4 linked regions of the Homo sapiens genome follow. The protein of the gene in region 1 interacts with the protein of each later gene in a pairwise test. Each region holds a gene or a part of one and is shown in the gene's direction. Other genes may lie near its edges.

What was found.
Region 2: the proteins of CYB5R3 (region 1) and FUNDC2 interact in binary tests that used the Homo sapiens proteins (3 or more experiments, as listed by UniProt).
Region 3: the proteins of CYB5R3 (region 1) and NINJ1 interact in binary tests that used the Homo sapiens proteins (3 or more experiments, as listed by UniProt).
Region 4: the proteins of CYB5R3 (region 1) and CSGALNACT2 interact in binary tests that used the Homo sapiens proteins (3 or more experiments, as listed by UniProt).

What each region holds. Positions count from the first base shown.
Region 1 is NC_000022.11:42,625,376-42,632,392, reverse strand, and holds part of CYB5R3 (NADH-cytochrome b5 reductase 3), read left to right. Parts: intron 1-942; coding exon 943-1,015; intron 1,016-1,404; coding exon 1,405-1,511; intron 1,512-4,111; coding exon 4,112-4,241; intron 4,242-4,704; coding exon 4,705-4,788; intron 4,789-5,003; coding exon 5,004-5,089; intron 5,090-7,017. UniProt on the Homo sapiens protein: Catalyzes the reduction of two molecules of cytochrome b5 using NADH as the electron donor.
Region 2 is NC_000023.11:155,022,117-155,029,844, forward strand, and holds the start of FUNDC2 (FUN14 domain-containing protein 2), read left to right. Parts: upstream 1-4,727; 5' UTR 4,728-4,822; coding exon 4,823-4,955; intron 4,956-7,728. Other genes in the region: F8 (coagulation factor VIII isoform a preproprotein), read right to left, coding at 294-436. UniProt on the Homo sapiens protein: Binds directly and specifically 1,2-Diacyl-sn-glycero-3-phospho-(1'-myo-inositol-3',4',5'-bisphosphate) (PIP3) leading to the recruitment of PIP3 to mitochondria and may play a role in the regulation of the platelet activation via AKT/GSK3B/cGMP signaling pathways.
Region 3 is NC_000009.12:93,131,244-93,139,157, reverse strand, and holds the start of NINJ1 (ninjurin-1), read left to right. Parts: upstream 1-4,906; 5' UTR 4,907-4,940; coding exon 4,941-5,015; intron 5,016-5,564; exon of another isoform or gene 5,565-6,146; intron 6,147-7,616; exon of another isoform or gene 7,617-7,673; intron 7,674-7,914.
Region 4 is NC_000010.11:43,133,508-43,141,456, forward strand, and holds the start of CSGALNACT2 (chondroitin sulfate N-acetylgalactosaminyltransferase 2), read left to right. Parts: upstream 1-4,937; 5' UTR 4,938-5,060; intron 5,061-5,065; exon of another isoform or gene 5,066-5,739; intron 5,740-7,949. UniProt on the Homo sapiens protein: Transfers 1,4-N-acetylgalactosamine (GalNAc) from UDP-GalNAc to the non-reducing end of glucuronic acid (GlcUA). Required for addition of the first GalNAc to the core tetrasaccharide linker and for elongation of chondroitin chains.

The sequences.
Region 1 (7,017 bases):
CCCTGTTGGAGAGGTCTGTTGTCCCCCTCTAAGTGATGACACCATCCACATGTGGACTTTGCCACGTTTGGATGTAAGCGCCTCTGCAGCGCCGACCTTCCGCATGGCTTCTTCACACTCCCTCTCCTGGCCATGCTGGGTACTGGGGACCCCACAGGGAGTGCACCCTCAGGACGCTGGGTTTGGTTCCAGCTCCGACTGGAACTGATTATGTGATCGTCCCTGGCCTGAGCGTAAGACCCACTTAACAAGACCTCAGGGGTTTTAGTCTCAGCTCCTTCCCTGGCCCAATCTGGCTCTTAGCCAGCCCCCCTCCTCCTCTGCCACTGTCCCAGCCACTGACCATGCCCTGGGTGCCCACCCTGTGCAGGGTGGAAGCCTGGCTTTGGGCTCTTGGAGTTCCTGGGCAGGGAAGGCTCCCACTTTCTGCCCTGTGAAGCCCACCTCAGTCCTGGCTGCCCCATTTCCCAAGGGGCTCTCAGGTGCAGTGGCTTCTGCAGCCCCTCTCTTGGGATGCAGGCCTGGGCACGTGCAGCCTTGTCTAGCTCTGCCCCAGTTTGCCCATCCAGCCCTCAAGTTCTTCCTGCCCCTTCAGGCCACTGCTTGAGCTGATGGCAGAGATGGATTCCTCCCTCCCCGTCCTGTCTGGCATCCTCCCTTTGGGACCCTGGGTTCATTCCCTGTTCTGGCCACCTTGTTTGTGGCCCCTCTAGGCCAGCAGGACAGACACACCCAGCGTGCGCCTGGCCTCAGCACCTCACACGCAGCGTGCATGTGTGTGCATCTGTGCTTGGCGTCGGCGTCACGTCTTACAAGGACAAGCAGGCACTGGGGAAGGGTGGGGACACAAAGGAGGAATGGGATGGGGGCTCCGAGGCCTGGGAGCCGCCCTGGGAGGCCTCTGCCCTGGGGACCGTTCAGCAGCTTTGGGCCTCTCTCCAGATCATCAGCCATGACACCCGGCGCTTCCGCTTTGCCCTGCCGTCACCCCAGCACATCCTGGGCCTCCCTGTCGGTGAGTCACGCCCCTGCTGGGCCCATTCGGAGCCCGGCAGGCTGCTGGGGCACTAGATCAGAGAGATGGAAGCTTTACATTTCCACCAGGGAGAGCAGGGAAGCCTTCAGGAGGAGGTGACAGCTGCCCTGGGCCTTTGAGGGCGAGTCTGTTGGAATGAGAGTGGGAAGGCCCAGAGTCCCTGGCAGTGGCACCAGCAGGAGTGAAGGCATGGAGGCAGGAAGCTGGGACGTGAGGGGAATCCCCGGGAGGGGTGGGAGGGGGCCGTGGGAGCTGACGCCAGGCCAGGCTTTGAATGCCGGGTGGGGTGCAGGGGAGTGGGTTGACAAGACCCAGGGGTCACCCGCAGGATGATCTCTGGCCCAGAGTGACCCCGTTCTGTCCTGCAGGCCAGCACATCTACCTCTCGGCTCGAATTGATGGAAACCTGGTCGTCCGGCCCTATACACCCATCTCCAGCGATGATGACAAGGGCTTCGTGGACCTGGTCATCAAGGTGAAGCCTCTGGGTCATGACTGTGGAGGGGGTGTGGGTGGGTGGCCATGGCAACAGCCCATGTGGACCCCCTGGACAGGGAAGTCTCCCGCTCCTGCCCTGTGCAGCCCAGCCTCGGTCATGGCTGCCCCACTTCCTCAGGGGCTTGCAGGGGCAGTGGCTTCTAGAGCCCCTCTCGAGTCCATGTCCCCCCGCAGCCCGGACTCCAAAGACCCAGTGCTCCCTTGTGCCTGGTTTCTGAGTAAATAGCACGTCATCTTTACCAACAAAAGCCAAAGAAGGGGGTCTTGGCAGAGAACAGGGGCCAGGGTTCAGGGCAAGTGCCTTCAAACAAGGACAGGTACCTGCAGCAGAGGCTCCAGGAAGGCCGGCTGGCGGTACAGACGCCCCTGCTGCGAGGTGTGACGGCGCAGTCCCGTCCCTGCTCTCACGCTGGGAGATCCCTGGGAGTTGGGTCCCGAGTGTGCGGGGTGAGGCAGCCACTCCACCGTGGTCAGCGGCCGGGCCTCTGTGACACGCAGGCCCTGTTCTTACCCGTTTCCCTAAGAAATGTCCCTCAGGCCTGCTAGGGAAACATGTGAGGGGCTCGTGTGGTGTTGTCTGGGAGCTGGGGTGATGGGCTTTCTGGGGTCTGCTGCGGGGTTCGAGGTGGAGGTTCACAGGAGAAGATGCAGGCGTTAGGGGCAGCAGCCCGGAACCTGAAACACACATGCCGAGTGGGAAGTAAGAGGCAGCATGACGGCCCCAGCAGGGACGTTTTTATGAAAATTAGAAATACAAGCTTTCAGCCAGGCACAGTGGCTCACACCTGTAAGCCACTTTGGGAGGCCAAGGCGGGTGGATCACCTGAGGTCAGGAGTTAGAGACCAGCCTGGCCGACATGGAGAAACCCCGTCTCTACTAAAAATACAAAAAAATTAGCTGGGCATGGTGGTGCGCACCTGTAATCCCAGCTACTTGGGAGGCTGAGGCAGGAGAATCACTTGAAGCTGGGAGGCAGAGGTTGCAGTAAGCCAAGATCATGCTACTGTACTCCAGCCTGGGCAATAGAATGAGAGCCAGTCAAAAAAAAAGAAATACAAGCTTTCCTGCAGAACAGAGGGTGAGAAGCAGCCTAGACCAGTGGGTATGTGGGGTGTTGGAGACCCTCCCCAATCAAGGCCAAAGCCCTATAGCCTCCCCAGCCCAGCACCCTCAGGTACCCCTGGAGCCCCCTTACTGGGCCGTAGCTGAGGCCCTTACCTTGCCAGGTCTGGGGGCAGGCACTGGATCTGAAGGGTGGGAAGGGCCCTGGCCCGGGCTCCTTCCTTGCTGGGGCGCCCAGGCCTGGCCTCAGGAGCCCGTCTTTGGCTGGAGGACGGACACTGGACACATAGTCATGGGGAAGCCAGTGCTCCCTGCAGGGGACAGGTACCTGCGACCGAGCTTCCAGAAGGGCCACCAGGGATGGGTGGGGTTGGCTGGTGAGAGTGGCTCCCTAGCAGGTGACAGTGAAGGTGAGATCTGGGGCTGAGTAGGCACTGACCAGGTGAAGAAGGAAGAAAAGGAGCTTCAGGTGCAAAGGCCCTGAAGTCAGCAGCAGGCTCAAGGATTGAAGTGGCTGGAGGGTTGGGGCAAGGGGTGGGAGAGGTCAGTGGGGCCAGACGGGGCCTTGGAGGCCCCAGTAAGGTTTGGGGCTTTGTCCAGAAGCACAGAGGAGGTGATGAGGGCTCAAGCATCTGTTCACGTTGAAGTCTCTCTGGCCAAATGTGGAGAAGCTATTAGGAGGATTCAAATTGAGGATGAAAAACTCACAGGTGACCAGGCCTCTCCTGGCTTGGAGACCTGGCTGGCTCCCTTGGTCCTTGATAAAGGTTAGAGTCCTGGCCTGGCACCCAGGGCCCAGGACAGTGTGCTCTGCCTGCCTGTCCGTGGCCCTCCACTCCCCTCTGCCTCCACACCCCATAGCCACCCTCTGTGCTGAAGCCACAACAGGCTCCCCTCCCTGAGGCACTGTGTACACGCTGTCCCTCCCCCAGCCACCTTCCCCTTCTCCATCCATCAGACTCCTTGGGCAGGGTGAGCCGCTCCTCCTCTGTCTCCCCATTTCTTTGTAGGTGTCGGATTGAGGCCCTTCTCTTTCCCAAGACAGTAATCCTAGAGAGTGCAGGGCAGGAAGTAGTCCCAAGAGTGAGGGAGGTTTTTAGCGACAGCACAAAACGGAAGGGACTGAGTGTCCACCAGGAGGAGTGTGGCTTAGTGGGCCTCCCAGAGCCTTGACTTTGCTGACGGGTTCAGTGTCTCCCGTTGGGAGGGGGCCCCAGAGACAGTTGGTGAAATGTGAGTGCATCCAGCCCTGGAGTTGGTCGGCCTTGTACACGAGGCTGGTGGTTTGCTTTCCCCGGATATGTCAGGTGGAGGCTGACTCCTGGGAGGACGGGGTGAAGGACGGGGTGCAGGACAGGTAGGATTTGACGGCTGGGTGGATGGGGCTCCACGGGAGAAGGCCATGTGTGGGCCTCAGAAGAAGCTGCAGAAGAGGCACTTGTCTCCCACTGTGGGCAAGAGCTCGCCCCTGAGACCTGGAGCTGGGGACTGAGGGCTGCGGGGGTGTCTTGCAGGTTTACTTCAAGGACACCCATCCCAAGTTTCCCGCTGGAGGGAAGATGTCTCAGTACCTGGAGAGCATGCAGATTGGAGACACCATTGAGTTCCGGGGCCCCAGTGGGCTGCTGGTCTACCAGGGCAAAGGTGATTCGGGTCGGAATCCCTTGGTTACACGGCAGGCTCAGAGAATTGGAGAGCTTGGGCGTGCTGGGTGCAGGGTGCAGGCCCCTGGCTCTGTGTGGATGGGTGACTCTCGTCAGGCCAGCTGTCCCTCTCTGGGAACTGAGTCTCCCTGGCTGTAGAGGGGGTAAGTTGCTGGCACAGGGGTTGCAGACAGGCCACTCCTGGGGGCCACGTCTCACCCACTGCCAGCCTCTATTTGGCTTTCTCAGCATCTGAAACAAGCAAGCAAGAGGACAGAGCTGAGCCTCCGGGTTCCCAGCCTCTCCACTGCTCCTGCACCTTCCTCATGGCTCGCGTTAGAATGGCAGCTGCCTCTACCTCGGACCTCACAGTGGGGGCAGGTTCTCCAGCCCCCTCTCCAGCCTCTCCAGCCACCACACATGGCATGTTTGATGGCCGGGCCTCACCCCTTCTCTCTCCCCAGGGAAGTTCGCCATCCGACCTGACAAAAAGTCCAACCCTATCATCAGGACAGTGAAGTCTGTGGGCATGATCGCGGGAGGGACAGGTACACGGAACCCCCCACTGAGGCGTCCGGCGGCTCATGTTAAGGGTGGGGTTGGGGTGTGGGTGAGGCGCAGGTTCTGAGTGCCTGGGAGCTACCAGAGGTCAGGGGCCCAGGCCCAGTGGTCCTGGCCCCTCCACCCCAGTACACCTGGGCGGGGCGGTGCCTGTGAACAGGCCTCGCTCAGCACGTGCGAGGCCCGGCCGGCTATTTTGCAGGCATCACCCCGATGCTGCAGGTGATCCGCGCCATCATGAAGGACCCTGATGACCACACTGTGTGCCACCTGCTCTTTGCCAACCAGGTCAGTGGGCATCCCCATGATGGGGAAACTCAGCTTACCCTGAGAGGGGACTTCGGGCCTGGTCAGGTGCTGTTCCAGGGGTCTGCACAGCTCTGCTGAGATTCTGGGGATGACCGGGATGGGGGGCCCTGAATGTTCTGTGCACTGGCGGCCTTGGCAGCAGCACGGCGGGCAGGCTTTGTGGTGCAGCGCCTGTGTCTGGCTGAGGGGGCTGCCTTGCGGGGAGCTCCCTGAGCACCCCCTCCCCTGGCTGCTTCCTCCAAAACTCAGAACTCCCTTCACCATGAGCACGGTGTGGAACCCACTGGTAGAGTGGGAAGAATGCTGGCCTGGACATGGAGGGGCCCATCTTACAAATGACCAGACATTTGCACGAAGCCCCTGAGCTACAGGGTGTCAGGGCAGGATTTGAATGTTGGTGTCTCTGGCTCCTGATTCATATCCTTGTCCACGAGCCCACTGCCTGCCTGCCCGCCCTGGCCTGCTGTGTGGTCTTGGACGAGCTACTTTCCCTCTCTGAGCTTCACTCCCTCATCTGTAGAATGAGCTGATGAAACTGGGTTGTTGCAAGGTCTTTTCAGGTTAGTGTTTTGTGACTGATGACGTAGATTTGGGGGAGAAGATGCTTGCCTGAGGTCCTTGGATGTGGGTCCTTGCCCCACCCTGCCTCCCCGCAGCTGCAGAAAACTGCCGCAAGGCCAACCAAGATGGCCTTGCCAGGCCCAGGGGAGAAAGAGCCAGAAATTCTAAGCTGGCTGGTGTGGAGGGAGAGAGGGCAGCAGTGAGACTTGGTGGTGCTGGTTCAGAGTCTGTGGAGGCCGTCAGACCGTCTGTCACCTGTACAGGCCATCTTTGCAGCTGGTAGCGAGGGCAGTGTGGTCGCCTCATCTCATACCTCCGAACACAGGCTCCGGGAGGGGCTTGACTGTGCATGTCTCGTGGGAAGTGCTGAAACCAGGATGCAAACCAGGGTTTTATTTATTTATTTATTTTGATACAAAGTCTCGCTCTTGTCCCTCAGGCTGGAGTGCAATGGCACAATCCTGGCTCACTGCAACCTCCGCCTCCCGGGTTCAAGTGATTCTCCTGCCTCAGCCTCCCGAGTAGCTGGGATTACAGGATGTGTGCCACCATGCCCGGCTAATTTTTATATTTTTAGTAGAGATGGGGTTTTACCATGTTGGCCAGGCTGGTCTCGAACTCCTGACCTCAGGTGATCCACCCGCCTCAGCCTCCCAAAGTGTTGGGATTACAGGCGTGAGCCACAGTACCCAGCCTATTTTTATTTTTAAAAAACTATTTTAGAAAACATCATTCTGTTTTACGTTTTTGCAAACCTTGGAATGTCTGGCTTCATAGGACAGCTAGATTCCTGTGTTTGTTTCTACATCCCATCTGTGTGATGTTGCCAGTCACGCAGCCTCTGGAAAGTGGCCCCATCTACTGAGAGAGGAAGAGTGAAAAATACCAGTGTCTCAGTATTATATGAAAACCATTTGGCCTCAGGGATCCTCTCCAGGGTCCCAACCCCAGGGGTCCCCATGCTACACTCCGAGAACCGTGCCAGTCGGGTCATTGCTGCTCGTTTCCTCTCCTACCTTCCTCCGTGACCTCAGTGCCTGGTTTTGAGCTGGGAGCCCCCTACCCTCGAGTAGCAGCCCCCCAAGGTTCCATCCCTCTGTTCATCTGTCAGGTGGGTCGCGGCGGTGGCCACCTCAAAGGATGGTGGTGAGGATTAAAGCATGAGACACACTTTAGCTCAGAGAGGAAGACATAACTTTTTTTAAAAAAATTGAGACGGAATTTCACTCTTATTGCCCAGGCTGGAGTGCAATGGCGTGAATCTCGGCTCACTGCAACCTCCGCCTCCCGGGTTCAAGCGATTGTCCTGCCTCAGCTACCTGAGTAGCTGCGATTACAGGTGCCCG
Region 2 (7,728 bases), on another chromosome or scaffold:
CCCTTCACCCTCCCTCTACTCCAGTCTCTAGATTCTGGAGGAGCAGCATATGACGAAGAGAAGCAATGGACAAAACAGAACAAAATATCAACAAATAGGTCAGACCTATGAAAAGAATTGGCAGTTAGCATTTCTGCTAATAACACAGATGTGTGCACACCTTACCCAGAAATGTTTCTTTGGGGCCCAGGTAGCATCACAACCATCCTAACCCGATGTCTGCACCTTCCTCCAAGCAGACTTACATCCCCACAATCCTGGCCCCGATCAGACCCTACAGGACATGCCTTTACCTTGCGTCCACAGGCAGCTCACCGAGATCACTTTGCATATAGTCCCATGACAGTTCCACTGCACCCAGGTAGTATCTTCTGGTGGCACTAAAGCAGAATCGCAAAAGGCACAGAAAGAAGCAGGTGGAGAGCTCTATTTGCATGACTTATTGCTACAAATGTTCAACTGGAGAAGCAAAAGGTTAATTCTTCTCTAAAATATCTTTAGCTCCCAGGAGGGGAAAAAAGTAAAATTTCTGATTTAATGAAAAGTCCCAATTTCTTTGCAGAGCATTTTAAGGAACTTTACCCACTGGATGTGCTCAGCACTAAGCAGTAACCGATAGGATTGCTTCCTTTTTATCAGTGGGAAGCAGCCACAGGAAGAACTGAAGTAGCAAAAGGGAGGCTGCTAAACTTAACCCATTCACTTCTGAGAGCAGTAGGGGCATAAGTCTGCTTTAATCAGAACCTTTAAGGAAAGGAGGAGAGGGATGGAGAAGTCAAAGTGAACAGGAGCTTTAATTTGTGCTCCTATTCCTAGCCTACTCCAACCCTCTTCCTGAGTGGCAGCAGCAAGAGAAGTTCTGGATGTTGTCGAAGATTCTAGAATTCACTTGCACTAGCAAGAGTAACCAGCAACCTGTTAGTCTCTCTGCTTTTGCCCTTGCCCCTCACACTGCTGCCAGTATGAGGAATTTATAGTTTTTAAAACTGTAGTTTTACATATAACATGAGGTTAGGCAACTATTGTTTTAAAAACTATAATTTATAGTTATAATTTAAAACTATAAAGCGAGTCCTGTCACTCCTCTTCTCAGAATCCTCCAATGGCTTCTGACCTCCATCAGGGTAAAACCCTACATCTTTACCATGGCCTAGGTCCTAGAGCATCCCACATGGTCTGCATGCCCTTTCTCCTGACCTCTGTAGTCTCATCTCACTCTGGTTATACTGGTCTCCTTACTCTTCCCTAAAATATCAAGCACACTCATGCCCCTGGACCTCAACACTTGCTATTTCTTTTACCCAAAACACCTTTCCCCCAGATTTCCACGTAGTTCCACTCCCACAACTCCTTCACATTTCAGCTCCAATCTTCCCTGTTGAATGAGGTTTAAATATGGAACACCACATTTATGTTGTAAGCTCTTTACCCCCACCTGCATCACTGATATCCCTCTTGGCTTCATTTTTCTCAATAGCACTCATAACCACCTGGCATTTATTCATTTATTTATTTTGTTTTGTTTTTAACCTAACACTTTTCCAGGCTGTTTACATTTGGCCCAGGTATAGGATATATCTCTTTACATCAGAATGTAGCCATGGTGAGCTCAAACACCCTACTCAGGTTAATGTTTATTAGGGAGAGTGAGGGCCCCTGCAGGGGCCTCAAAGTGTAAGAGATTATGAGAAGAAACTTGATCAGGGTTGCTATAAAAATGTTATCATTGAGCTCAGTTCTGCACAAACAAGAATGTGTTAGGGAGCAATTGGTATATTGTCGACTGGTTTGGAAACAGGCAGCAAGAAGCCCCTTTGATAAACACTCCTCTCTGACAGGTACAAGGATGCAGAGATGACAGCTGACACTATATGCCAGGAACTGTTCTAGGTGCTTTTAAATACAGGTACTATTCTTACCTTCATTTTATGGGTGATGAAACTGAAGCACGGAGAGGTTAGGCAACTTCTCCATGGCCACACAGCTTGTGAGTGGTAGCATTCAAACCCATGTACTCTGGCTCCAGAAGTCATGCTCCTAACCACTATGCTATACTTCTATGCCTCAGAAATGAAGAAATCCCAGTTCCCAACCCCCTGGGAATGACAGTCCAATGGAGGAGACAGAAAAGTAGACAGTTACAGTACAGGGTGATAAATTCACTGCCAGGTGCTACACATAGGCTATCTGATTTAATCCTCATGACAACACCGCAAAGTGGATACAGATAAAGTAACTGAGGTACAGAGAGGTTAAATGGCTTGCCTACAGCCACATAACTACCCATTTGTCCTAGACAGATATTGTCCTAGGCACTGGGTACACATTGATGAAAAATATAAGCAACTGAAAGAGGGATGATAAGCAATAATTACAATACATGAGTACATTATACAGTATGTTAGAAGGTAAAATAAGTGCTGTGCAAAAAAGAGAAGTGGGGTAAGGGGGAGTAAGGGTGGACCAGGTTGCAATTTTAAAGGAGGTTAGTCATGGAAAGTTTCACTAAGGTTGCATTTCAGCAAAGGGACATTGACTTCTACACTGAGGGCAATGGGGAGACACGGCCGGGTTGTGAGTAGAGGAGGGTGGTGATCAGAATTATCTTTTAGGCTGATCTTTCTGATCACTGTAGATAAAACAAACTCTAGCAGGATAAGGGTAGAAGGAGGGTGGCCTGTTAACCGGGGGTGAGAAATGGTGGCGGCTTGGGCTATGATGGTACCACTGGAGAGGGTGAAAAATGGCTGGATTCATTGTGAGGGTAACGTTTGTGGGAACTGCTGATGAATTTTGGATCTGTGGGCTTTGAGAAGGAAAAATTTGGAACACCAAGTTTTTTGGAATAAAGTTGACTAACTGGGATGGGGATGACTGCATGAGTAGCTTAGGGGCGGGGCACACTGTTAAAGGGCTCCTCAGGCACTGCAGGCATAGAAGCTCCTTTCTTTCCCAGTGCTTCTCTTATAGCGATTACAATGTTTTAAAAATGTGTCTTCCAGACAAATACAGTACAATCCAACATGTTTGAGGTTCTACAGTTAACAGATTGTATAATTAATAATCTGGGTGGGAATGTTAATCAGGAATGAAATACAATTTAAAAATTAACAAAGTAATGAGTCAGAGGCTATATTGATAGAAGCACTTTTTAAGGAATAGCATTCCCTGGCCCAAGGGCTTAGTTGATTGAAAATTTTATCTATTATTGCTAAATTTTAAATCAAAATATGGCCGGGCACGGTGGCTCACACCTGTAATCCCAGCACTTTGGGAGGCTGAGGCGGGCAGATCACGAGGTCAGGAGATCTAGACCATCCTAGCTAACAAGATGAAACTCCTCCTCTACTAAAAATACAAAAAATTAGCCGGGCATGGTGGCACGTGCCTGTAGTCCCAGCTACTTGGGAGGCTGAGGCAGGAGAATCGCTTGAACCCGGGAGGTGGAGCTTGCAGTGAGCCGAGATCGCGCCACTGCACTCCAGCCTGGGCAACAAGAGCGAGACTCTGTCTCAAAAATAAAATAAATAAATAAATAAATAAATAATCAAAATAGACCCCATTACCAAATTTTCATGTTTTCAAGGATTCTCTAAAACCTACAATATTATCAATTACATATTCACAAATAATTACTGAATACAATATGGTATGTGGTAAAGTACAAAGGAGTACTGTGGCCATTTGTGATAAATAGAAATCAAATTGGAAATCTTCATAGATAACGTATTTTTTCTTTTTTTTTTGGAGACGCAGTCTCACTCTGTCGCCCAGGCTGGAGTGCAGTGTCGCGATCTCGGCTCACTGCAAGCTCCGCCTCCCGGGTTCACGCCATTCTCCTGCCTCAGCCTCCCGAGTAGCTGGGACTACAGGCGGCCGCCACCATGCCCGGCTAATTTTTTGTATTTTTAGTAGAGACGGGGTTTCACCATGTTAGCCAGGATGGCCTCGATCTCCTGACCGCGTGATCCGCCCGCCTCGGCCTCCGAAACTGCTGAAATTACAGGCGTGAGCCACCGCGCCCGGCCAGATAAGGTATATTTTTATTCCTTTTATTTTTACTCAACTCCTATGGTGCCACAAAATCCTATATTAAGCAGTATAATTGAAAAGAAAAAGAAAACAATAGCACAATGATTATAAAGAAAATAGCCTGAGTTAACTTCATTTGTGTCACTCCTAAAGCAGTGGATCAGATGTCAATGTTTATTATCATTCACTAATTACATTTATGAATAATTTTTAAAAGTAAAGGAAAAGACTGGCTGTTTTAACTAACATAATAGAAACTGTTGCTGGATTTTCTGTTGAAGGTATATTTTGAAGTGAGTTTTATTAAGTATAACTCGCATGTAAAATTCAAAAGAAAAATTAAATACATAAATAAAATGTGTCTTCCTCCACTAAAAGAGTAGGACACATCGCAGAAGCCGATAAATATTTGTTCAATGTTTACATGAACAAACACGGTCACTCAGCCGTCTTTATTTTCAGTGAGTCATAGGTAAAATATTCTTCACCAGGCGAGGATTGAGTCGCAGTCGCGTCAGGAACTCGCCTCCAGGTACTGAGCGAGCGAGCCCCGACGGCCGCGGTGGGTGGAGGGGGGAAAGTGGGGGAGAGTGGGGCGGGAGTAGAGGGAGAGCGAGGGAGGGAGCCTCACCCCCGGGACGCTTTCTGCGCACGCGCATCTCGGTGCATCTGTTGGGCGGGACCGCGGGGCCTGTGACACCGCACGCTGAGCTCTGTGATGTAGCCGCTTGCGGAGACTGCAAGCAGCCGCGGCGCGCCCGGCCCTCCCTCTTCCGCTGCCGCCGTGGGAATGGAAACATCTGCCCCACGTGCCGGAAGCCAAGTGGTGGCGACAACTGCGCGCCACTCCGCGGCCTACCGCGCAGATCCTCTACGTGTGTCCTCGCGAGACAAGCTCACCGAAATGGCCGCGTCCAGTCAAGGTAAGGGCGGGCGCGCGCGCGGCCGGCGCCGCGGGGAGCCGCCTTCCTGGGCTCCGGAAGGGGAAGGGCTCCGCGCCCGCCAGTCGCGACCGAGCTCCCCGGGGAGTCCAAGCGGCGCGGGGACGGGGAGGGCGCTCGGGGATCGCCCCTGGCTCAGCCGCTCCCAGGGTCCGGCCAAGGTCACGCGCGTGTCTGGGGCCTAACCACCCTGGGGTGTCGTCTCCAGTGGAGCTCACCCAGCCTTCCGGCGCCGCCCCCGGCGCAGAAGCCCGAAGACATTCTGTCCCCGTTCTCGGAAGCGGTCTGGCTTCTTTGTCCCTTTGGACGTTCATCTCAAATGCCTCGTGGCGTCATTCTGTGTACAAGGCACCTCCCCAACTGCTTTATTGTTGGTTTTGAAAAACTAGCACATATGGGATGGTACTTAGGAATAGCCTTCTGTTTAGTCGGCATAGTCAAAGATTCCGTGTAATTCGCAGTGGAGCACGTCTTTAAGTTATGCGTCTTACCCTATTTTGAATGTTTAGGTTGTATTTAATTTAGTACTGACTCACGGGATCCCATTGCTAAACAGAGCCATCATTGAAAACTCAATCATATAAACGTAAAATTACGTAAATTATGTTAAAAACAAAGGCAGTGAAAATACTAAAAACTCATCACTTTTATTATTTACCATGTTTTATTGTTACTTTACTTTTGAGGTTATTTATACATCTATTGTATCTTTGTGGAGGAGATACTATACTATGGTGCTCTACTGTGCGTCTCTTCCCATCTCTGGGTTCAGTAGTTTCACAATTCAGTAATGTCATGCTCACGATGAATGAATACGCAATGGAAATTGGCTACACTACAAATCAGCCCTTGCCTAAAGCCGACTGTTAAGCATTTCACCAGCACGCCGCTAAATTTTAGATGACTCTGGGAAGGTGGAATGTGCAATGTGATAATTATGTATTTTCCTGCAGAGCAGACTGCTCTTATAGACTTTTATAAGAGCAGACTGCTCTTATAGACTTTTATAAGAGCAGACTGCTCTTATAGGTTGATCAGGTATTTGCACCTAGGAAATTGTTGTGAGAAATTTTGAGGTTAAGATGAGTTTCAATTGTTATCACAGTGATGATCACATAATAACTGTGATCATTGATTTTGTGGGCTCATAAACGAAGCTATTGGCTGACTTTTGTCTGTCATAGTGCTTAGCAGTGTTTGACCAATGACTGACCAAATATCTCGCATTTAATCTACCTTCCCCCCTACTCCCTTTTTTAGGGACTAGATCTGTCATTCAGGCTACAGCACAGTGGCACAATCATAGCTCACTGCAGCCCCAGTGGAGCCACCTGTTGATCTAAGGGGCTTGGTCAAATTACGTTAAAACTGTAATGTTTTGTTGTTACATTAGAAAAATAAATTATTTAACTACTTGAGAGGCCATGGAGTACCCAGGTACTCAGACATCCATATTTTGTTCTGCTAAATGGGCGTCTGTGATGTATCCTGAATGAATTCTTGAATTATATTTTGTGTATGGTTTAAGGTAGAGGTTGAGAGTAGTTTTTTTTGAAACACAAATATATAGTAGTTCTAACATCATTTGTTGTTTCCTTCATTGAGTTACCTTGGTGCTAAGTTATTAAAAATCAAATGACTATATGTGTGGATCTATTTCTGGATTCTGGATTCTCTTCCATTGCTATATTTGGGTATCCTTGGGTCAGTTTGACAGTGTTGAATGTCATTGCTTTATAAGCCTTGAAATTAAGATAGTTGTATATTATACTGTAGCTTTATAATGAGCCTTGAAATTCCTTGAACCCTCCTCTTTCCCTTGCCCGCCTCCGCCCCCAGGATTATTGTGGCAGTTTGTATTTTCCTGATTGCAGCAATATTTTCCATTCCTTATGGTCTTTTTCCTAGTGACTTTGACACTCCTCCCACCCAGGGGTGGGATCTATATTCCCTCTTCATGAATCTGGATGGGAGTTTGTGACTGACTGCCTGTTCCTACAGAATGCAGTGGAAGTTAACACTGCATTTGCTCTCTCCCTTTCTTGGGACTTTCACCTCCTGAACTCAGCTCCTATGCTGTAAGGAAGCCTAGACTGACTCACATAGAGTAGCAGCCTATCTATCTGTGTGAGTGTAGAGTCTTCAGACCCAGCCTGTAAGTCTTCTGGCTAAAGCCTCAGACATGAAACAAAGACAAACCACAGTGCTGTGGCTGAATTCCTGATCCACAAAATCTGAGAGCATAATATATGATTGTTTTGCTTCATGAAGTTTTGGAGTAATTTGTAGTACAGCCGAAGTAACTGGAACACTGCTGGGTTTTTTTGTATCTTCATATGAATTTTAGAACCAGTTTGTCAATTACATAAAAACCTACTTTTTTGCCGGGCGTGGTGGCTCACTCCTGTAATCCCAGCACTTTGGGAGGCTGAGGCAGGCGGATCACCTGAGGTCGGGAGTTTGAGATCAGCCTGACCAACATGGAGAAACCCTGTCTCTACTAAAAATACAAAAAATTAGCCAGGCGTGGTGGTGCATGCCTGTAATCCCAGCTACTTGGGAGGCTGAGGCAGGAGAATCACTTGAACCTGGGAGGAGGAGGTTGTGGTGAGCCGAGATTGTCATTGCACTCCAGCCTGGGCAAAAAGAGCAAAACTCTATCTCAAAAAAAAAAAAAAAAAGAAAAAAGAAAAAACCTACTTTTTAATTGAGATTGTATTGAATATATAGATCAATATATGGAGAGAATGAACAT
Region 3 (7,914 bases), on another chromosome or scaffold:
GATCACAAGGTCAGAAGATCAAGACCATCCTGGCTAACATGGTGAAACCCCGTCTCTACTAAAAATACAAAAAATTAGCTGGGCGAGGTGGTGGGCACCTGTAGTCCCAGCTACTTGGGAGGCTGAGGCAGGAGAATGGCGTGAACCCAGGAGGCGGAGCTTGCAGTGAGCCGAGATCACGCCACTGCACTCCAGCCTGGGCGACAGAGTGAGACTCTGTCTCAAAAAAAAAAAAAAAAGTAAAAAACTAAATTATAGCAGCCTCTGAACAGGATAGTTGTTTTTTTGTTTGTTTGTTTGTTTTTCCTTACTCACACCTAAGAAGTCTGGAGGTGGGCAGCCCAGGGAGGCCTGTGCTGCAGGCATTGTGGATGCAGGTTGCTTCTGTCTTCAGCTCCACTATTTGAGGCTCCCATGGCCAAGGTCTCCTCACGGTCCAATACGGCTGTTGGAGCTCCAGCCATTACATCCACTTTCCAGCCAGCAAGATAGAGGAAGTAATAAAGAATGGCACACCCCTTCTGTTTAGGGTTCCTTCCCTGATGTTGCACACAACATTTTCATTGCCAGAATGTAGCCATAAGGGTACCTCTAGCTGCAGGGGAGAGAGAAATGCAGCTCTGATTCTGGGAAGCCACTGGTGCAGCTCAAAGTCAGCAGCCTGTGACTGAGCAGGAAGAAGAGAACAGATAGTGGGGGATGACTACTCTCTCTGCCACTTTGCTGTGGCAGCTGGGGACAAGAGCTTTGCTAGGCACAGATGTCCATAAATGCAAAGTGGCATCAGCCCCAGCCTGGCCCCTGGGAGCCCCAGTGGGAGAGACGGATGCACAAACAGGAAGGAACAGAGCAGTGTGTCAGGGTGCAGCAGAGGAAGCAGGGGCCAGCCTCCTGCTCCTGCCTGTTCTCTGCCCGCAGTGCAGCTGGACCCCTCCACATCCGCTGGCCTGGCCTCGCTTGCTCTGTAGACGATGGCATCCCACTCCCGAATGCAGATGGCCATAATCCACTTAGCCACTCCCTTGTGGTGGACGTCCACTTTGTTTCTGTTGTTCTGTGGCCTTCTAGGGCCAGCTGTGCCTCGCTGTGCAGCCTGGACACATTGCTTCTCTGTGGTGGACAGCATGAGAGGCTCTCATACCTGCGTGGTGCTCATCTCCCATCACCTCGCCCCTTATCATCCTTGACCTGGCTGTGCCTCCCCTCCCACTGAGCCCTGCCTGGTGACCTTGGCAAGTCCCTCGGCTCTCTGAGCCTCTGCCATCCCATCTTTAGTGTGGGGATGATGGCATGGCACCTCCTCACAGGCCTGGGCTTCCTTCCTCTGTCCTTCTGGAAATGGGGTGGCCACGCTACACACCCGCCTCCCTTACCTCCCTGCTCTGTACACTGACCCAGTGAGAGCTGTGGTCCCTGGGGACCGCCTGATAGAAATGCAGACTCCTGGGCCCACCCTGATGCCAGGTAACAGCTCCTTCAGGTGGGTGGGGAATGGATGGGCCACGCCTGGTGCTGGCAATACCACAGGCTTCCAGGGAGTTGCCATTGCCCTGGGCCGACTGCCAGCCCCGTCCTCCTCCCGCTCATGTTAGCAAGAGCATGTGCAGGCGGGCAGGTGGGCATGCAGAGCTGGGTCACCTCGGGCATGCTGCGCCACCTTGCCAGACTCGCTTTCTCCCTTGGTGATGTGGAAACGGCATACCTGCCTGCAAGCCTCTCCGAGGTGGAGGAGGCCAGGGACTGGCTGCTTCTGAAGGCTTTCTGTAGGTGAAAACATGGTCCATCTGACCCATGGACCTTTCAACAGCTTGGTGCTTTCACCGCATGTTCCCCCAGGTCTGAGAGACACAACTGTACTCCCCATAGTACGCGGTGGGGGTCGCTTAGACCGTGCTTAGTCCCAGCTCCTAGGACAGTGGGTGAGTAGAAGGTCCAAGCCTCCGGTGTGCCTGTTCTCTGCCCCACTGGGGTCTCATTCTTGGTCAGCGGGATGGAGCCACCTGCTTGAGGTGGCACTGTGAGGAGCACGCTGGGGTGACACCTCCATGGTCCTCACATGCCATCTTGCCTTATACCCACTTTACATATGAGGAAGCACATCCCAAGCCAGAAGGGGCAGATCTGAACTCAACACAACGCCAGCCCCAGAAGAATCCACTAGAGTCTTTGATGGGGGAGAGGGATGCACCAAGCCTCCCTGGGCACCAGAGAGGCATCCTGAGATACCCTGTGGGCTCCTCCACAGAGGCCTGGGGCCCTCGTACATATACAGTGTTTGTGTGTGCACACCCACCCACACATAGGGCTGCTCTGCTGGGGCATCTGCCAGCCCGTTCCTCCCAGCCACACCCCTCCTCTGTGTCTCTCCTGGGGACATGTCCCTCAGCTCAGGGTCAGCGTCTAGAAACTGGTCTTGGACAGCTCATGCACTCATGGTCTCCAGGAGAACTTGAAAGTAGGTGGTTGGGCCCGGTGCAGTGGCTCACGCCTGTAATCCTTTCACTTTGGGAGGCTGAGGTAGGCAGATCACAAGGTCAGGAGATCGAGACCATCCTGGCTAACATGGTGAAACCCCGTCTCTACTAAAAATACAAAAAATTAGCCAGGCGTGGTGGCGGGCGCCTGTAGTCCCAGCTACTCGAGAGCCTGAGGCAGGAGAATCGCTTGAACCTGGGAGGCGGAGCTTGCAGTGAGCCAAAATCGCGCCACTGCACTCCAGCCTGAGCAATAGAACGAGACTCCATCTCAAAAAAAAGAAAAAAAAAAGGTAGATGGAGGTGACACGGGGTACACTGTGCCTTTAAGACTTGTCCTGGGTTGGATCCAGCAGAGAACAGTTGGGTAAACAGCATTGAGCACAGTGGGGAAAACAGACACTACATACTCAAATGAGGATGACGGAGCAGACGAGGGAACTCCAGCGCTGCAGCCTGCCTGAGCCCTGACACCCACACGTCCTGCCAGCAGCCCCAGGAGCTGAGGAAACTGAGGCTGGGAGAGGGTCTCAGACGGCCAGCACAGAGCAGGTTTACAAACCCCGAGGCTGATGTCCCAACTGTCACTGGTGCTGCGACCCTCCCGGCTTCCTCTTAGAAGGTGGGAATGGGGCCAGGCGCAGTGGCTCATGCCTGTAATCCTAGCACTTTAGGAGGCTGAGGCGGGCAGATCACCTGAGGTCAGGAGGTGATCTGGCCAACATGGTGAAATTCTGTCTCTACCAAAAATACAAAAATTAGCCGGGCGTGGTGGCGCACACCTGTAGTCCCAGCTACTCAGGAGGCTGAGGCAGGAGAACGGTGTGAACCCGGGAGGTGGAGCTTGCAGTGAGCCAAGATCGCACCACTACACTCTAGCATGGGCGACAGAGCAAGACTCCATCTCAAAAAAAAAAAAAAAAAAGGATGGGAATGATGAACCACACTGCAGGAGCTCCCACATGGCACAAAGGAAAGAATACTCTCAGGACGGGGTCTCCACCTGCCAAGCCCTCCTACTTCGGGGCCTCTCTACACGCCCTTGGCCTTCCAAGGTCTCAGGGCTCCCCTGCAGCTCCCAGGGCCCTTTCTGGGTGTGACGTATTTTCTCTGTGGTCCCACACCTCCTGCCCCTCCAGGAATTGAGCCCTCGTGGGCAGGCACTATCCCCCAGAATAGGGATTTGTCCCATACTGTGAGAGAGTTTTTTGTGTGAATGGTGCTGGATTTCCAGCTGCTGGTGAACACTCAGGTGTGCCAACAGTGCCCTGATTATGCGAGGACAACAGCAACCATCCCCGTCGTGGGCCACCGTGCCAGACCCTGTCCTGCAGATCCCCTCTGAGGCAGAGCTGGGGCAGTGACAGCCTGAGCCTCAGTTTCTCTGCTGTGAAGTGGGCCCACGACAGCTCCTCCTTCATGGGATGACCCCGTTTGGAGGATCAGGGCAAGCGCAATCCTGCTGCCCTGCCCATGCCCACTCACTCCTACCTCCTGTCCCGGTGGCAGCCTGACTGGACAGAGCCTGGGGTCTGAGCTGGCCTTCCTTCCACTGCCCTTCTGGAAATAGAGTGGCCATACTGCCGCAAGCTGACTATGCTGTGGTCAGGATGAACTCCCCTGGCCTCCCAGGGTGGCCGCCACATGCTCTCGACCCCCAGGCCCCCAGATGGGCAAAGTGCTGAGGAATGAACATATGGAGAAACAGAGACCAAACAACCACTTCAATCATACAACAGGTGGGGGCCCGCCTAGCATCTGGCCAGGGCTCTGGGCACTGTGCTGCCCCCAGCCCACCCCCTGCCACAGGTGGCACAGATGGGCCCATGAGTCAGCGCACGTTCATCCCCTTTGTGCCTCCCCCAGCCCCTCCAGCAGTCTGTGCCCTCATAACCCCCATTTCCCAGGCAGGAAAACCTAAGGTCAGGGAGTGGGAAGCCCTGTGTCAGCGTGGCCCGCAATCAGGGGAACCCCGGACTCTCTGACGCTGTTACTAGGGGCGCAGCAGGCGCTGTGCTGGAGCGATCTGCGGTTCCCAGGGCGAACCCCGCCTGGGAAAAACCCAGCGTGGGCGCCAGCGGCAACGCCCGCTCGCTTTCATGCAGTTTGCCTGGTGGCCAGGGAAAGGTCGTTCTTGGCCTCATTTTGTGGATTAAAAGTGTCCGCGACGGAGGTTCAGAGCAAGACGCAGCGCAGGGTCCTCTGGGGCCATCGGCGTCGCGCCCCCTCCCTTGTGGGGCCCCGCGGGACCGTCTCAGGCCCGAGGGGTTGGGGTCGCCCCAAACTGCGCGCTCTCAGCGTACAGCCTCCAGGCCCCGGGCCCGCCCCGGGTGGAGGCGGAGTCTGGGGCAGCAGCTCGCCGCCGGGCGGGCCGGGGGCGGGCCGGGGGCGGGCGCGCAGCTGGAGCCTGCGGCTGAGGCTCGGGCGCGCTCAGGCCCGGATCCTGGCGGCCTGGGCGGCCGCACCATGGACTCGGGAACCGAGGAGTACGAGCTCAACGGCGGCCTGCCTCCGGGCACACCCGGCTCCCCGGACGCCTCGGTAAGACCTTCCCCCCACCGCTGCATGATCTTGCCAGGCCCTGTCCTTTCGGGGCGCCGCGGCTCCCCGGGCACCTGTGTGCGCCGCGTCCGCACTGCAGAGTGTTGGGGGACGTCCCGCTCTAGGCCAAGTCCTTCCCGCCCCATCAGGGTCAGAACGATGCCCCCGGGAGCTCCAGCCACCCCCGGCAAGTGGGCGGGACGAGGGGGCGTGGGGGCGCAGGGCGGGCTGGCGTCCCCAGCCCCACTAAGCAGCGCCCGCGCTTGGCTGCACGGCGGAGGGGGCCTCGGCGCAGCTCCTCGGGCTAAGGACTGCCGGCGCCCGGCTTTCCCGACCTCCCCCCCACTCTCGCGCGGGCCTCTCTAACTTCAGCCTCGCCGTGCCGGCTCCTCCGCGCACTTTGCCCGGAGGCGGGCGGAGGGGAGTCACAGCCTCCGGGCTCCAGACCAGCTGCATGCAGACAGTTACGTCACCCCACGCTGACCACACAATCTGATGCGTGCCTTGATGGGGGAACTTGGGGCCCGCTGTGGTCCCTATTCCACTCACCTGCCTTGAGAAATAGAAACGTCACACAGCCTTCAGTGTATGCCGCCACCGGCCCTCCAGAACTTGCCCTGCCCGGCCTGGGAGGGCTGTGGGCAGGGGGCAGGCCCTGGTAGTGGTCCCGCTTCAGAATTCTTCATCCCAGGACTCAGCACTTACTGAGCACCTTGTGTTTGTTGCAAGGTCCTGGCATGGCCCTCTGGTGACTTGTTTACTTTGAACATTCTTTCCTTTTCTAACCCCCTCAGGGATGGGGGCAGGGAACAGCAGCCTGTTGGGTTTTTCCAGGCCTCTCCATGGCGTGGACCAGACTGGGGCAAAGACACTCTGCCCACTCGCTGGTGAACAGTCCTAGGCCGGTGCTGTGGGGACAGGACATGTTCGGGGAGGCGGGGCCCCATGAGCCACGGGATAGGATGGCCCTGGGGCTGCATGGACACTTGTTCCTAGGTTAGAGAGGAGCTGTCGCACTGCAGGACTTGACCGGTGTGCGGGACCCCAGCGACCTGGCCCTGCCCCAGTGTGTGAGCACTTTGGAGCAATAGGCAGGGGGCTCCTCCGGCTGTGTGTCCTTGGGAAGTTGCCACACCTCGCTGGGCCTTTTAGACATGGTCTTATAAAGAGAGAACAAAGGGTCTCTCCTGCCTTCAGGGAAGTGGGGAAAGCAAGTCAGGTAATAAACAGGTCAGTGGCTTGGAAGCGCCTTGGAAAGGAAGGGATACTGCTCCTCCCCCAACCCTGACCTTGCCCGGGCAATGCCCTCCACTCAGAGCAGTCTCTGCTCACTTCTGCGGGCGGCAGGATAGGCTGTGCCTCCTGAGATGGGTGCATCTCAAGCCCAGAGGAGATTGGGTTGGATTTGTTCCCGGATCACTGTCTTGGCTCTGGGCACCAGAGGGAGAGAGACACAGCCCCGCCCCACCAAGCCGCGGTTGGAGAGCAGCCCAGCCCAGACAGGGCAGGAGAGGCCAGGGCAAAGCAGGGGGTTCCCTGGGGGCTGGGAGCCCATCGTGGGGGGCGGGGCATGGTGGTCAGGGAAGGCTTTCTGTGGAGGTGGGGACATTGGCTCTGAGCCCTGGAGGGCAGGGAAGGTGGGTGAGCAGATCTGGCTCTCTGAGATGTGTGGAAGGGCATCTAGGCAGAGGGAACAGTGGGAGCAAAGGCTCAGAGGCTGGACCACAGAGCACATGAGGGCCAGGTAGGAGGTGGGGGGATGGGAAGCCAGGCCGATGGGAGGGGCCTTGCAGGCCTGATCACGGTCTGGTGTCCAGGGAGCTGTGGAAAGGCTATGAGCCAGTGTGAGGATGAGCACATTTCCCCTTGAGGGGTAGAAAACTTCGAGGGCCGCTCTGCTCACCCAGCCTGGGGGCCCAGGACCACCCAACACACCTGTTCCTCTTCCCAACCTCAAGACCTTGCTTCTCCGTTTCTTGGGCACATCATGTCAGCACTCTGTGCCTCAGTTTCTCATCTGTGAAATGGGTGTGGTCGCGGTGCCTGCCATAGAGAGTGGTGAGGACTCAGTAGCTGATGTATATGAAGTGCTTAGAGCCAGGCCAGCACTCAGCGCCCTCATCCTTCTGCCTGCCACGGAGACCCTCTCCCACTGGTGACCCCTGGCAGTGGTTTGGAGAGGGCAGCGCTTTGCCCAGCTCCCTCAGTTTCCTTTTCTGTAAAATGGAGAGTCTCAGTTTCCTTTTCTGTAAAATGGGGCACAACTGCTCACCTCCCAGGGTGGACAAGGCTCAGGGAGGAGCCACACGTGGAACTCCAACCTGGGTGGGCTCTGTTGGGCCACGGCCGTGGGAAGCTCTCAGGTCTCCCCTACCCCGTGTGCCCTGCGCCCCTGTGGCCCTTCATGTGAGGGCCCCCATCAGTGTCCAGGGATTGAGTCAGCTCACTTGTGGCTGTCAGCAGAAGGAATAGTAAACAACAATGTTAATGTGAAAATGGCCTGAATCTGTTATCCCCAGGGTGTCTCAAGGCAGGGAGGTGGTGGGGATGGGGTTAGGACACGGCCATCTGGTGCCAGCCACACCTTCCTGCCCCTCACAGCCCGCAGGTTGAAGGTTCCTGGGGCCACATCTGGGCCGAGAGGCATGGTCCTTGGAGGTAGGTAGCTGTGCCCTGTATACCTGCCGTCTGGGCCGTGCATGGCCTCAGCTGCCCAGGAGGAGGTTTGCTCGTTTCCTCATTTCCGCTTTCCTGGCAGATCCTGAGGCCGGCAGGGTCTGGGCCAAGTTCTAAAAGGCAACCCTAACATGGTCTCAGGGCCACTCGTGGCCAGTGCTGAGTCCGCGGGAAGTGGGTCTGCCTGGCCCAGCTGTGGTGGGAACCCCGCCTTCCAGCACTT
Region 4 (7,949 bases), on another chromosome or scaffold:
AAGCTGGAGGCAGCTAACCAGGAGGAGGGCCTCTTATGTGATTGGTTTGGGGGACACAGGTGGCTTTCTCTGTTTAGTTCAGTGGGCAAAAAATAGGGAAGCTTGCAGTTCCTGACCAAGTCCTAACCATTCTGGGATAATTGTTACAGAGGCTGTGGTTTGGCTTCCTGGCTAGTTCTGCAGAGAATCTGATTCAAATCCTCTGGCCGTATGTGGTCTGGCCATTGTCTGTTTGCATGTTCAGTCTCTTAGTCCCCCTTGTCGGTCATTTTCTTGTTTGTAAAAGGTTGGCCAACTCAAGGAAGTCTAGAGATCCAGCTCTTCACTGCTCAGAGATTATTCAGTTGTCTCTCTGGTCAACCGTATTGTGAGATCTTGATCCTTCTGTTGTTATAGCATCACAGTGCTCATTTGACAAGAATGGGATGCAGTGGAACAACATCAGGACCACTATGACAGAAACAAGAGCAACTGTCCCTGTGAGACGCTTTGAACGCAAACCTCAGCTGACCAATGCAGGCCAAGAGCAAATCCCATATAGGCCATGAGGATCAACCTTAGAAAGCCAAATAGCTTTTGCCTCAAGGTGATGTGTGACCTGTTCTACCTTCTCTTGTTTCACTGATCCAGATGCAGTATTAGCAGTGGCAGAGGCCATCACCAACCAACAAGAAATCTACAGCAATGAGACTGTCCATCACTACTCATGCCAATGAGTTGAGACTGATAGGTGCCCCATCTAGGGAAGAAGGGGCATTGCTAATGACTTCTGCCAGGGTTAATGATAAGTTTATGACAACAGGATTCCCACAGATGAGAACATTGCTCTGATTGTTTGCATAAACAATGAGTCAGTAACTCCCCAGTTAGAGTGCTGAATAACCAAGGGTGATGTTACGGTTTTTGCAGTTTTACACCAACCGGTTTGTGGTAAATCGTTACAGCAACCCTAGGAAAACCAACGCACCATTTCTATGTATGGTTAATGCATGGCAGGTGTTTAAAGGTATTGCAGGATATTGGTGCTTTTCCTTTCCCCAGTGCACCTCATTGATCTCAAGTGAGGGATTTTTCTTTTTGTCTTGATTTTTGTTTTCTAAGTTGAACAATCTTTTTTTCTCAGTGTCCTTTCTGTATACAGTATCTATAAGTGCCCTTGTCAGTAGCTGACTGGTTGGGGAGGGGCTACCCAGCTGTTTGATCAGCAGGGCCACAAGTTAATTTTAGGTCCTGTCTTATTTTTGTTCTAAAGCACTTTTAAAATGTCTGCCAGGTGTTGTAGTTCAGGTTAAGGGGCTATTTCCCATTCTCATTTCTGTTTTTGATTAGGTCTCCGATTTCAGATTTAGCTCCTTGACAACAAGCAATGAAAGGGCCACTTTCTAGACTCCCAAATGATACAATGTATTTTCTAGCCTATCCCAAAAAAAACTCCTGCAGGTCCTTTTGTTTGTTTGTTTGTTTTTGCATGACAAGGGATTATGGTCTAATCTTTTTGGTGGGGGGAATGTTTGAGATATGGCTTTTAGAAGACTTTGCCCTATGTTTTGAGCCTCTTTGTTAACTCTTCAGTTTTATTGTGGACAGTGGGATCCTAGGATCCCTTTTGGGGGAGTCTAGTCAACTTTTGCCATTCAGGATTTAGCATGCAAGGTTCTGGTCAATGTGTACAAGTTGATATGGGTTAGGTAACACTGGGTCACATGCTTCCCCCCGCCGCTTTGCGATAGGGTCTTGCTCTGCCACCAAGGCTAGAGTGCCCGTGGTGCAATCATGGCTCACTGCAGCCTCAACCTCCTGGGCGCAAGTGATCCTCCCATCTAGCCTCTTGAGTAGCTAGGACTACAGGCACACACCACCATGCCTGGGTTTTTTTTTCCATAGAGATGGAGATCTCACTATGTTGCTCATGCTGGTCTAACTTGTAGGCTCAGGCAGTCCTCACTGATTCACCTTCCAAAATGATGGGATTACAGGTGTGAGCCATAGTGCCTGACCAAAGTATTCTTAATTATTTTATGCATAGTTGCTGATCTTGCCTGGGTTTGGGGAAATCCTTAATTATGGTTATTAATTTAGCTTGGGTCTAAGGTTTAAATTCCACAGTTGTCTGTATATGGGGCTCATGGAGGAATAGGCCTTCAGAGAGGCAGCTGGCATCCTGGGGTCATAGGAGGGTTGTTGTGAAAGGGCAGGGATCTGGACAAGAGGAAGAGAAGTGTGGACAGATGTGTGGAAGGGAAGAGATCAGAAGGATAAGGGGGAGAAGAGGGAGAGCTGTATTAGGGAAGCAAATGGATGATAAGCAGAAGGATTTACTAGGAAAATGAGTCTAGGTTGTTGCTGCTTAAGTTTGCCAAATCGCTCATCAGCTTTAGCCAGAGTCTTTCAGGGAAGCACTTTTTGAATCAGAATATCATTTGGAGACCTCTGACTACCAATCAAAAAAGGCTGCTCATTGGGCCTAAGAAATCTTATTCTCTTTCGTTTCTAAGGCATCTCTCAAATGAGCAATTTTGTTCAAGTTAGATGTTCTCCAAATAAGATCTTCACCAAATCAACCTTGGTGAAGTTAATGCTTTTCAGAGATGGGCGTAAGGATTAGAATTGTTAGAGAGTATATGTAAGAAGCAGGAGTTTTTTCTGGAGGAGGAGATTTAAACTTAGACAACACCATGAATGCTGGCTGGTGAGGCTGGCGAGAAATGGAATGTTTGTGTCTCTCAGGACATGAAAGCGAGACGGAAGGAGAACCTCATTCAGTTTTACTGGAAACCCACAGCAAAGTTTCTCCAAGTAGAGGCCGGTGTGATGAGAACTGCTAAATCATGAGCTGCGAGGCTGGCTCAAACAAGAGGCTTATGAGCCCCATGCCTGTGTCCTTTCCTACGGTTTTCCTTCTTATGACAAGCAGCACTTTTTGACAGCACAACACTAAACACTAACACAAAATACAGTGAAAAGGGATAAAAAGAATGGCCTGATTCCACTAGAGATGCCAGACAAATGAGAATCAATAACAAAACCAGAGTACCAAACTGAGAATAAATAGCCAGAGACCTCCACGCAGAGTGAGGTGAGCCCTAGTGCTGACCACATCGGCGCACCTGATAGGCCGAGAACATGGAGGCATGAGGGGCCTCTGGGTGGCACAATGGGTGGAAGCCTGGGGACCTCAGGGACAAGCAGTACAGACTTACCATGGGATCACCAGGAAAACTGTGGAAACCAGCAAAGGCTATTTATTCACAACTTGCTATAGCAGGGGAATCAGCCAGCATCACTTACTTTTGGTAGAAATTTAAAAGGCCCGAAAGAGATGGGAAACTTTTATTGTTTTGTTTTGTTTAAGTATCAGATTGGAAATTATTGGCAGGAAATGTTTTTAATTACATTTTTCTGATATTAAACCCAACACAGTTGTACTTTAATATTTTCCCTAGGAGAACTACTTATTTTACAACTATATCCCAGTGTATCACCCATGATCAGCCACATAATTTGAATCATGCATTATCTTCTCTCCACATTCAAATTACATACATTTAGTATTTGGCTACTTAAAAAAAAATCATTAAAAAGTAACAATTTAAATCCATTGATGGGAGAACCTCAGTTAGTTTCAAAACAACAATTCTTGCCAGGCGGGGTGACTCACGCCTGTAATGCCAGCACTTTGGGAGGCCGAAGCTGGAAGATCGCTTGAGCCCAGGAGTTCAAGGCCAGCCTAGGCAACAGAGGGAGGCCCCATCTCTACCAAAAAAAATATTAACAATTAGCCGGGCATGGTGGCATGCACCTGTGGTCCCAGCTACTCGGGAGGCTGAGGCGAGAGGATCGCTGGAGTCGGAGGTGGGGAGGCTGCAGTGAACCGTGATCGCTCCACTGCACTCCAGCCTGGGCGACAGAGCGGGACCCTGTCTCAAAAAATAGATGAATAAATAAATAAAAACAATTATAATGGAAGTTTGGATAGGAATTTAAAACATGTGGCAACTAACCCTGACCCTGCGGCTTCAGTCTCCCCGCCGCTAGCTGAGGGCCGTGGCCGCTGCACAGAGGCTTGTGAGGATTCGGGGGTTCAGGCAGCGCCCGCCGCGCATCTGCCAGACGTGCGGCCACAGGGTAGGAGCAGTAAGAAGGATCCAGGGAAAAAAGTCCACGAATGAGAAAGGAAACCCAGCGTTTGTAGGGCTAGGAGAACAAAGAAAGAAAATGCTGGCGGCGGAGGGCGAGGCTCTGCGGTGCGTGGCAGATGGGAATTTGCTCGGTGGCGGCTCCTCTTTCTGGAGAGCTTCCCAGCGTCCCCTCCCCCGCCAGCCCGCGGTGACGCGCCCGGCACCCACCACAGCCGGCTCTCGGCGCCGTCGCGCCTTCGCTCGCCCGCTTAGGCCGTGCTCGCGGTGGCGTGGGAGACAGAGAGCCCAGGGAGGACCCTGGAACATGCAGTGGTATGGAAGACGCCTAAGAAAGGGCTTCTCTTTCCACTCACGAAAATCAGTGTGTGAGCTCGAAGCCATTTCCCAGCGTGTCCGCCTCAACTCCCTCATTCAACAGATGAGGAATTCCTCCAGGGAAATGCAGTGATGCGCTCACGGCTGCCGGCGGCCCAGCGCCAAGGGGCGCTCCACAGCCCCGCGGCCCGAAGCCCTCGACTCGGCTGCCACGCAGGCCCCGCGGCCCCGCTCGGACTCCCAGGATCGGCTTCCGAGCGGGACAGCGCTGCAGTCCACGAGTCCGGGCAGGGGCGCCTCCAGGCCGGAGCGGTTTCCTGCCTCGGGCACTCTGCTGTCTCCACAAACGGTTTTTGGAGGCACACACACGGATACTTTAAACACGTCGGTGATGAATCGGTACCCAGCTGCCAGTGGCGGAGCTTCCTGGGCGGGGCCGCGGGCGCGCGGCGGCTTCATTTCCTCGCGCGCGCCGGAAGTGGCCTCTCAGGCGCGGCGGCGCGCCCGGGGGTGGGTGGCTGAGGCGGCGGCGGGCCCAAGGCGTGAGGCGCCGCCCGGGTGTCCCCGCGGCGCAGGAGGCGGTGGAGCGCAGAGCGGGCGAGCGCGGTGAGTACCTGGCCCGGCCTCGCCCGCCGGTCCGCGACTCCCGCCGGCTCCGGCCCGGGCGGTGCGGGCGCCGGGGCTGCGGGCTCCTGTGTGGTCGGGTGGGGTCGCCTAGCGGACCGGTCCTGCGGGGGGCCCTGTCTCTCAGGGATGAGCCTGCCGGAGTCGGCACCGGTTTTAGGGAAAGCGCGGCCAGAGACGATTGGTTCGCTTGTCAGTGTTGGGTTTTGTTTTGTTTCGTTTTGTTTTTACCTATTCATCACCATCTCTGCTCCTCTCAGTGGATAAACTTTTTAATCAGTGGTGACCTCGTCATCGCGTTAAAATAGTTCTGCCCTCAGCCCCTCTTTATCTGTAGATGGCAGAGCGAGCGCCGGTAAAGATGCTCTGTCGTGGAGGGCTCAGTGGGGCGGAGGAGATGGGGAGCCTCTGGCGTTGTCGGAGAATGCACCTTAAAAATGACTCTACCCTTGAGCAACGCAGGAAGCACGACAGTGATACTTCTGTTTGTGATGATGGTATTGGCGGTATGATAGTTTGATTATACATCTGAAGCTTCTCTTCCTGAGTCCTTGGCTTGTTAAACTTGGAGGTATTTTCTAGCGTGCTTTTGAGATAGATATGGGATGTCGTGACGTTTCACCGTCATTCAAGGCTCGCGGGAGCAGGGCCTTCATGTCTGGTAATTAATGTTGTTTTTTGAATGTTGTATTAAAATAGTAGCTTCGATCTTGGAAGTAAGAAGCCAAGTATTTTAGGACTGAGTGTTAGCGTTCATTTTGTATTATTGTTCTTGTACCATTTGTTTAAAGTTGTCATGTAACTAAAAGAATGAAAAAAGATGGATTTCCAGTATTTGTGGCTCAGAGGATTTTGGCCTAAATAAACACAGTTCCAACCAGTTTAGAAGCTGCATTTTTCTCTTTGTTTTTGTCGAGGCATAAAATACATATGAAATCAATAAGAGCACGAATCTTAATTGTACAGCTCAATGAATTTTTACATACTTATTACCCTGTGGAACCACCAGATATATCAAATTATAACCATAGAACATTTCCATCATCCTATTTTCCTGTGCTTCTTCCAAGTCAGTTATATCCTTGTTTTCCCATCTGTATTCTAACTTCTCTTATCTGCTTTTAGTTTTCTCTGTTTTGAGCTTCATGTTAATGGAATCACGTAGTATTCTCAGCATATTGTTTGTGGGACACACCCATGCTATTTCATGGTATTGTATTATTACTGTGTAATAGTCTATTGAATAATATGTGACTACTCTTCAGTTGATGGACATTTATGTTCCCAATTTTTGTATATGATGTGTTTTGGATATTAAGAATACTGTGGGCCTGGCGTGGTGGCTCAGGCCTTTTATCCCAGCGCTTGGGGAGGCCGAGGCAGGTGGATCACTTGGTCAGGAGTTCGAGACCAGCCTGGCAAACATGGTGAAACCGCATCTCTACTAAAAATACAAAAATTAGCCAGGCGTGGTGGCGGGCGCCTGTAAGCCCAGCTACTTGGGAGGCTGAGGCGGGAGGTGGAGGTTGCAGTGAGCCGAGATCGTGCCACTGCACTCCAGCCTGGACGACAGAGCCTGACTCGGTCTCAAAAAGAAAAGAAAAAAAAAAGAGTACTGTGGACATTCTTGTAAATTAAATGTCTTGGTGAGCATCTGTATGCATTTCTGTCAGCTATAGAATGACTGAGTCATGGCATAAGCAGAAAATTACCAACATGGAGTCATTACCAACCATACCATTACCAACCAAAGGCAGAAAATTTAACCAACATGGAGTCATCTTTTTTTTAATGTAATAGAATTTGTTATTTTAACTAATATAACATTCAAGGTTGGTTTTAAAAAAGCATAACTATTATGAGTTCAAGACGTAAGTGATTCATTCATTACCATGTTATTATTTACCCTTTGAATTGCACATTTATGACTGTCTTCTGTCGGACTGTCATTGTTTGTTTAACTGTTAGACAAGTCTGTTAGAGCTGGTGAGGATCTGACTCTGAAGTTTAGCATAACATTTACTTAAGAACTGTATTACTCAAGTTAGTGGTTTTTTAGAGGAAATGAAATACCAAAAGGATATGACTGAAAGTGGATTGAAGAATCACGGGACTGCAAGTCAAAGAACTTACATTGTTATTGTCATGCTACACAAGCACTAGGTATAAGTGTAAAATTGAATTATAGGGCTAGTTACAAATGTGAATTCACAGCAGGAGTACAGTGATTTTCATATGGACTGAGATACTACTAGCACATTTATAATGTGAACACACAACAAAAATCACTAAACATTTGTGGGAAATCGGTAGCATCTAAGAGAAGCTTCAGACCAAACAAATACAGAACTAGGCACTGAAGCAGTGGAGCTAATGTAAGACAAAAGAAAGCTTTAAAGTAAGTATTAGTATCTTCAAATTTGTTAAGGTATTATGCCTACTGAACACATACAGGCTGCCATGAAAAAAAGCAATTGATTCTTGAATATTTAAACATGGAAAGTAGGAAAGGGCCAGGTGTGGTGGCTCATGCCTGTAATTCCAACACTTTGGAAGGCCGAGGCAGGAGGATCTCTGGATTCCAGGAGTTTGAGAGCAGCCTAGGCAACATAATGAGACCCTGTCTCTACAAATAATTTTTTTTTTTTTTGAGACGGAGTCTGGCTCTGTTGCCCAGGCTGGAGTGCAGTGGCGCCATCTCGGCTTACTGCGAGCTCCACCTCCCAGGTTCACGCCATTCTCCTGCCTCAGCCTCCCGAGTAGCTGGGACTACAGGCGCCCGCCACCATGCCCGGCTAATTTTTGTATTTTTAGTAGAGACGGGTTTCACCATGTTAGCCAGGATAGTCTTGATCTCCTGACCTCATGATC